2 linked regions of the Homo sapiens genome follow. The protein of the gene in region 1 purifies or fractionates together with the protein of each later gene. This does not show direct contact. Each region holds a gene or a part of one and is shown on either strand. Other genes may lie near its edges.

Region 1 (4,857 bases):
CACAATTATTGATGAAATGCTGTTACCAAAACACCAGGAGTTCCATCTATGTCTTGCTGCTTACCACCCAAAAAGTCAATCACTGAGACAATGATTATTGTCAAAGAAGAAGGCTTTAATCAGATGCTGCAGCCAAGGAGATGGGACATCAGTGTCAAATTCACCTTCCTCACTGACTAAAATTAGGGGTTTATATAACAGGGAAGAAATGTTAACTACGTATGAGAAAACAGGAACTAAGGAAGGGTAAGGAAACAATAACGAAGAATGAGGGGTCTGGCATATCACTGTCTAGATGCAGTAATCTGGTGAGTTTCAGCTCTTTGATACTTGTTGAGAGGTCTGGGCATCCTTTCTTGAGGAAGGAACTGAGATAAAGATCAACAAAATGTGGCTGGGCGCAGTGGCGCATGCCTGTAATCTCAGCACTTTGGGAGGCTGAGGCAGGCAGATTGCTTGAGCTCAAGAGTTCCAGACCAGCCTGGCCAACATGGTGAAACTCCATCTCTACAAAAAAAAATACAAACATTAGCCAGGCATAGTGGCATGCACCTGTGGTCCCAACTACTTGGGAATCTGAGGTGGGCAGATGACTTGAGCCTGGGAGGTAGAGGCTGCAGTGAGCTGAGATCATGCCACTGCACTCCAGACTGGACACCAGGGCAAGACTCTGTCTCAAACAAGCAAACAAAAAGATAAAACAAATGCAAGTTTCAAGCTTTCAGAAAAGAAGTGTCCATTTCTATGTTTATTAATTTAAAAAACCCCAATAAACAAAACTAAACAAACAAACAAAACCCTGTCTATGGGACTGTTGGGTTGATTTCAGTACCATGAAAAGATCCAATTGTTTAAATGTTTAATGTATGGAGATAATAGGGGAGGTTGGAAAAGTAAGGATCATATTGAAGAGGTAACTTGAATGCTAGGTTAAGGAGTTAGGACTTTATTCTCTAGACCTGCCCTGCTGGATACAGTAGCCACTAGTCACATGTGGCTACTGAGCATTTGAAATGTGCTAGTTCAAATTGAGGTGTGTTCGGGCACAATACATACCAGCTTTTGAAGACTTAGTAGGAGAAAAGAATGTAAAGTATCGCCTTAATAATTTTTAGATTAATTAATTTTGTAGCTTGCACTTACGGCTTACATTATATTTCTATTGGAAAGTACTGCTCTATAAAATGAAAAATGAAGGAAGCTTAATGATCAGAAATTTATGTAAAAATTGTTTTAAGAAGTTTATTTTGGTATAAGCAGAGTGTAAGACAACTGTTCTCATTCAGTAAGCCAATGGCAAGTAAAGAAAAAAACAAGGTTCTAGTGAAGAAATGGGACTGCTATAATTTAAAAGATATTTAAGAGACAGAACAGCTAAATGGAAAGTGTACATTTTGTCTGATTCTGAGTCAAGCAAACCAACCAGAAAAAGACATTTTCAATTAACCGTGGAAATGTAAGTAAGGTCTAGATATTATGTGACAGTCCAATAATGACATTATGGAGATAAAAGAAAAAGTTGGTACATTTTAGGGATGCAAACTAAAGTATGTAGAGATGAAATGACAAAATATTTGGTATTGCTGGGGAAAAAAACTATTTCTTACTTTCCAAACCCCAATAAATAAATAAGGTAACACAATAACCTAATAAATAGTAAATCAAAATAAAATGCTTTTGCTGTAAAAAACAAAAAACCTGGAGTACCGGAGCATATCTACCTACACAAGGAAGAACCAAGCTGTGGACAGAAGGGAGTTTGAGGGCTAGAGATGTTCAAGGTGGCATCATTCTGACAGTACTGTTTAGAAAAGCATTCACCACACTACTTAATTCCATTGCTTTAGGTATTTTCATGAGGCCACACAAGAAAGTATGATGCAGCCAGGACTAAAACCAGATGCTCTTTGTATCTGCCTTTAAACATGACAAAACCCTGTGGAGAACCTAATCTATGCTTTCATCTTTAGATTTTTAAACTTGCTTGTTTCATTCAGTTATTCTTTATAGTTCATAACATCATTAAATAACTGATCATATTAGATTATTTTATTTATTCTGCTTAAGTTTATCTTGACTGCTTCTCAAACTCAGATTGGTAGAAGTTTAAAAAAGAAGGAAAGCAAAATCAAAGCAGTAACAACAAAACCATTTTAACATCTCCAAGTGAAATTTATGTCATGCTGGCCAAAAATAAGATGTAGTTTTCATCTCCAGGTACAATGCTAGGAAGAGGTGTTAATGTAAAGTAAGCAGCACAAAGAAGTAATAAAAGGAAACACAGGAATCAAGAAAGGGAGAAGAAAGAAAGGTGAGAAAAACACCACCACCACCACCACCACCACCACCAGCAACAATAACAAACCCCAACAGTGCCCATATGCAGTGCCCCCTAACTGCTTCGAAGAAGAACAGTTCATTCTGCTTTTTTCTGTAAGCTTGAAAGATAGCATAGCTGCCCTGGGAATGTGTAGACTTGCTGAGTCCTTGTTCTGCCCCTACCCAACTAGCTGTTTGGCCTTGATCCTTGATTTCTTTCCTCATCTATAAAGTGGGAATAATGGCACCTGCCTTACTTGTCTCACTGGGTTGAAATGAAAGCGAAGTGAAATAGCAAATGTGAAAGAATTTTGGAACGTTTTTATGTTGTAAGTTGGTTGCTAAGGTCTAAAAGAAATATTAATAATTACGTCGAATATCTTCTGCAGAAAAAATTAAACCGACCCCATCCCCCGCACATCTAGCCCTACCTGGCATAGGTTTTAGTTCTTTTAATTTTCGAATTAGAACATTGTAAAGGAACTGTAGGGACGAGAGTGGCATCAGGTCTCCTCATCCTTCTCACATCCTTGCCCCCGCACCCCTCTCTCACCCCAGAGTTCAAGCACCAACCGAAAAGATTGAGAGTAGCTCAGGGTACGGTAAACGGAGGAAGCTTTGAAAAAGGCGGGGAAAGCCTGGGATGGCGAGGGGGTGCTCGCTGAGGAGGAGGAGAGAAGCGACAGTCGCGGGGCCCGGAAAAGAGAGACTTAGAGCGAAGCCAAAGGCGCCTTTCTTCACAGTTTGGGAACTTACTGGTAGTAAACGCCACTCCATAGAAGCGGTGACCGGTTACCATAGAGACCGCGTCGGGGTGGGCGGAGCGTCGCTTCTGAGCTGTGCCACGGCCACATCAGCTCGGCCAGAAACGCGAACACGTCGGAACAGTGACTTCCGGCGGAAGAAGAAGCCGGTCCGGAGTTCTGGCCGACAGCAGGCGAGGAGTGGGTAGCAGCGCCTATGTGAAGTTAGGTAGGTCTGATGTCGTATAAAGCGCGGAGAGGGTGCCCGCCAATGGCTGGGTGGGTAAAGCCGACTGTGAATGGAGAAGATTCCCAAGTCCCGAGCTTGAGGAGGCCCCGGCTGTTTCGTTAAGTGTATATAGCTGTGGGAAGAGGTTGCCTGATTTCTGGGGCTCCTGGTAGGGTCTCTCTTCTGGAGCGTGGAAGACTGGGGCATCCTCGCGTAGAGAGTTTCACTCTGTCTTTGCGAGGTCTCAGCGCCTCTCCAATAACAGGGGACTCTTGTTCTCTACCAGCTGGTGCTGACGTTATTTCCCATATCATGCTCTCCAGACAATCTGGAGGAAAAGCAAACGAGAAACTTTCAGAAGGAATGCCCCCAAATTTATTTTAATTCTTTGATGTTCTGTTTTGCTTTTTTTTTATTCGTTCATTTTGTAAATATTCATTAAGCTCCTCCAGCGTGTTTAGTGGGTGCTTACTTGTGTGCCAGTTTTATCATAAGACTAGCAGAAATACCTTCTTAGAGGTTCATACACCACCTGGTTCATTATAAAATTCTTTTTTTTAATGCTGTTCATTAATTAAAGTATAAATATATATCGTGAAATACCTAACACGTTTTCCATACTTGTCGGTACACTTATACCTGGAATTCTTGGGGCATTTTAAATGAAAATCTGTGCTTCCTCAGGTTTGCATTATAATCATGATTTACTCGACTAAATACTAAAGAATTTACAAGGGCAGTACTTAATTTTTTCTTAGATACATGGCAAACTGTGATGAATTGTCATTAATATTTCTATTCAGCTAATCTGAGAAGGCCCACTTCTGGTTCCATGGATGATGGCGGTTGAGCAGATGCCAAAAAAGGATTGGTACAGCATCCTGGGAGCAGACCCATCTGCAAATATATCAGACCTAAAACAAAAATATCAAAAACTCATATTAATGGTAAGTCTTTTCTTTCAGATTTTAAATCATGAGGGGAAAAAAATCAATTTTTATATGAAACCACAAATTTAGGTTTCCAGAAAATAGGATACCAGTGGCAGGAATCCAGGTATTAATTTGATTTAATTGAACATTTCAGTAATATTGCAGAAAAACTTGATTTGAGGTGGAAAAGCATGGTTAGGAGCAGGAGATCTGAGTCAGGCTGCTTGAGTTAGAATCTTGAGTCCATCTTTATCTGTGAGAATTTGGACAAGTTACTTTTTCTTATATGTGCCAAGGGAGGATTAAATGAAATAATCCATGTAAAATATTTAGAAGTGTTGTTACATAATAAACAACAGTAGCTACTAGCCACATGTGGCTGTTGATTACTTGAAGTGTGGCTAGCCTGACTTGAGATGGACTGTAAGGGTAAAATATACACTGGATTTTAAAGACAGTATTTAAAAGGAATTAAAATAATTTAACAATTTTTATGTTGATTATGTTGATTAAAGTTCACTGGTTTTATTTTTCCTCTACTGTGTCCATCTGCTGATAAACTTCTTAAAAGAATTCTTGATCTCTTACCTAATTTTCATATCTAGCATTTCTACTGGCTCCTTTTTTAAAGTTT
Region 2 (3,870 bases), on another chromosome or scaffold:
ATTGTCAGTAACATAGTAAATTGTGGAGTTCAACTGGATAGTTTCATAAAATTTTTTAAAAACAAATTAAAGGCTGTACATGATTTTACTTTATTGAACGAATCACAAACAGTAATATTAAGAACATACAATTAAACTTTATAGTTTATTTCCTACTCACTGTTTAGGGATACTTTTATCTATTATTGCAATATGACTCTTACAATTTCAAGGTCCATAGGCAATATTTTTATAGGAATGATGTAATAAACATATTTGTGTTTCCTAGCACTGCATCTAAATTCCTATTTGTCAGCTGTACTTTGAACAGTTTAAGTCAACTGCCAACCCATTTGATTTTATAGCTTTGTATGATATGGACAAAGTATTTAAAAATTGAGTCTTCTTACAATGGATTAGTTCAATATTTACTGCCTTCACAAATCACTGACCTTGTTTTTTTAGAGGCCATTTCTGGAAAGCATATCTGAAGTGAATACTATAGAATAGAAAAAGGTTGAATATGTGGAACTAACATATCAGATTTAAATGTATGTTTTAGTGAAATTACTGTTTTTTTATCTCTGTTTCTGAAAGGGAATTTCCAGTTTTTCCATAATAAAATCTAAGCTCTAGACATTGCCTTAGATAATACATAGTTAACTAATGCAGTTTCAACATATCTATTCATTTTGTATTGAATTAGTTGCCAGTAGACCTTAATGTATGTAATTTATGTATTTTTTAAAATAAGATCATTTACAATCTTACATCGTAGTGACATTCAGAATCTTTTCTTTTGCAGCCATTTCGTAGAGTGACGTTTTCTGTTGTGAGTCAGCCTCAGGACCCACATCAGGGGTCACTGCAGAGTTGCTATGACAGCGGGCTGGAGGAGTCAGAAACACCAAGCAGTAAGAGTTCATCAGGGCCAAGACTGGGTGCGCTTCCACTCCCAGAGGACAACTATGAAAGGACCACGCCGGATGGCAGTGTTGGTGAGGCAGAGCATATGGAAAATGGTAGGGGCAAACACAACATCCACACACATAATCACGCTAGTGAGCCGTAATAAGTAGACTCGCGAAGGTCAGTCTAAAACCAAAATAAAATAGCTGACATTAAAACCATTTTATTTTAAGTGATAAATATTTGCTAAAATACAGAAATGCCAAATAAAGGAACATAACTCTGTAGATAAAATTCACCCAAATTGCACCATCATTTTAAAACATCCTGTCAGAAATAAACGCACTTATAAATAAATCAGAACAGGGCCCACTATGAAGGAAGCTAAATAAGTGCAGAATTCCTAAACAATAGTCACCAAGAAAGGTCTTGTCTAATTGTTTTCTTCTATTCATTTTTGTCATGCAACTATTTCTTCAATTGCAGCTGTCCAGTCTTAGTGAAAGGAAATGAAAGAAACATACCTTGCTCTACCTTTTCTTGTCCTAGATGTTTAGAAAAGCATTTTCAAACCTCTCCTTTCCTATGATCACTGAATAGGGTCAAAAGAGAACAGTACTACTTTGTTCTCCATAGTATGCAATAAATGCTATTAGAATTTCCCTCCTATTCAAGTATAAGGTTTTTTTTTATTTTTATGTGAGAGAAAGGAAGGAAAATAAATCATAATACTCCATATTTTTATACTGTTTTGAGGTGATTCTCATAATTACCACAATTGGCCTTGTATACATTTTCTTTTAAGTTATACATTTAGATTGCAAATAGCACTTATAAAACTTTCCACATTTGTTTATATTCCCAGAGATAATTTGGTGATTTATTTTCTGGATTTTGAGTCATAAGTAAATGCCTGAGGAATAGGTTTGTGTCAAATAATGGAATGGTAAAATTCATCCTAACTTCATTATTCTTTCAAATATGAAGAGAGAGATGGTTAAACAGAGAGAAAGGAAAGGAATCACACACATTTTATCCCTAGTAAAACTTGCAGTGGATTTATGTCTTTTGCCATCTCAACCCCCGAGTGACATAAGACGCTCTAACTTTTTGTTATATATCCGTTTCTTTAGTGCTGATATATATGCAAGTAGAGCATATTAATGCAGGAGAAAGACTGATTTTCTTCTGTAAGTTTACCTATGAATATTAAAATCCAATATTAGAATATAATATATTATAAAGGACCCCAAATGAAAGTATTGCTAAATTATATTATGCTAAATAATTATTTATCCACATTGTTCTTGGTTAAGAAAATATGATATCAGGGTCTGATGATTGACGTCCCTCTTGATTAATTTTGCAGAGTTAAAATGGCATTTTGCCTTATGGCTATAAAAGCATGCTTATCTGTGTGTATGGTGGTGTGTGCTTATGTGGATGGGAGTCTGGTGTGGTTTCTAAGAGTTACATTTTTTTTAGTAATTTTTTTAATGGGCATATAATTTTGGTATGAATTGCAATGCTGATGAATATATATTTAAGGCAGATATGTTTAAAATTATTTGGAAAAAGAAATTAAACTAAAAATACTGTAATTACATACATACTATGTAATTACATATGTAATTTGGATGTCAGCTTTATTAAAAAAGGACTTTGTACCCCTGGCATTATAATCATTTTTCAATGTTAGTTTCTGTTTTATGAGTTTATGGGGATTCATCACCTTTAAAATAAGAAATAAGTGATGAATAATTAAAAGATAATTATGTAATTACATGTATGTAGCCACATGTAATTGCATGTATGTAGTCACATGTACTATAGTGTATTACGTTACATATGTGTAACGTGTAATTACGTATGTGTGATATATGTAATATATAATATGTATATAGTACATATAATTACTTATATGTACATATGTATGTAATTACAGTATTTTTAATATAGATAGATGATAAATAGAGCATACCTAGGAAGGCAGGATTAATTTAATTTAGGGGTATTACTACATCTGAGATTACCTGTTCATGAGAACATATAATTTTGTTTGTGTTTTTAAAAGTGCTTATTCTTACTGTAAAGCACAGAATGTACAATTAAATCTTTATTTTTTGGATGTCAGCTTTATTAAAAAAGGACTTTGCACCACTGGCATTATAATCATTTTTTAATGTTAGTTTCTGTTTTATGAGTTTATGGGGATTCATCACCTTTAAAATAAGAAAGAAATGATGAATAATTAAAAGATAATTATATATGACAAACACATATCGGTTACCTTTTAGGAAACACACATGTCATGGAAAACTTAACAGGTGAGCTTGTTAATAAAATATAAAGTATACTGAGAAAGAGTTCCAAAAAACGACTTTTAATTCTTTTTTAGAACCAAGTTTTTAAGGCCTGTCAAAAGCAAGGGTCATGATAATGTAACGGATCTTTCCTGATTTTGTATGTGACCAACACTTGAAAGTCAGAGTTTATATGACCATTTGTCATCTACTGGCTGTGATTCATGTTAGCCTTGATCTATAGGTAATGACAAAATGAGATGCGATGCACTGTGGCTGATCTAAATGTAGCAGTTGACCTTTGAGTAACAAATTTGTTGGGTCCGTGTTTTCAGACTACTCATCTAGCCATAAAGTGCAATTGTGTTGCTTAAATTCTGGTAATTTCATCTTCAGTATTAATGGATCATTCTGACATAAATAGAATTGGAATTGAAACCTGTCAAGTATTCATTTGTCACATTTAATTGGAATCCAGGTAATCTGTAGTTTTTTGCTTGGCTAGGTTTTAATCAGGATTTGTATTGGATTTTCATTTGGATTTTCCATTAAAATACCATTTTGGATGCTGTGCTAGTTCCTAATTATTATTACCTCAAACATTTTTCTTGAATTTTAACCTATGTGAAACAATGCAGTTATCAGCAAGTGTTTGGGATTAACTTTCATTGTAAAGTTT

The links. The genes of interacting proteins can lie anywhere in the genome.
Region 2: the proteins of DCDC1 (region 1) and PCDH7 purify together in Homo sapiens (affinity purification with mass spectrometry; one large-scale study listed by BioGRID and IntAct). This does not show direct contact.

Annotation. Positions count from the first base shown.
Region 1 is NC_000011.10:31,366,622-31,371,478, forward strand, and holds the start of DCDC1 (doublecortin domain-containing protein 1), read right to left. Parts: upstream 3,119-4,857; 5' UTR 3,076-3,118; intron 1-3,075. Other genes in the region: DNAJC24 (dnaJ homolog subfamily C member 24), read left to right, coding at 4,128-4,238. UniProt on the Homo sapiens protein: Microtubule-binding protein which plays an important role in mediating dynein-dependent transport of RAB8A-positive vesicles to the midbody during cytokinesis.
Region 2 is NC_000004.12:30,919,369-30,923,238, forward strand, and holds part of PCDH7 (protocadherin-7 isoform d precursor), read left to right. Parts: intron 1-784; coding exon 785-1,001; intron 1,002-3,870.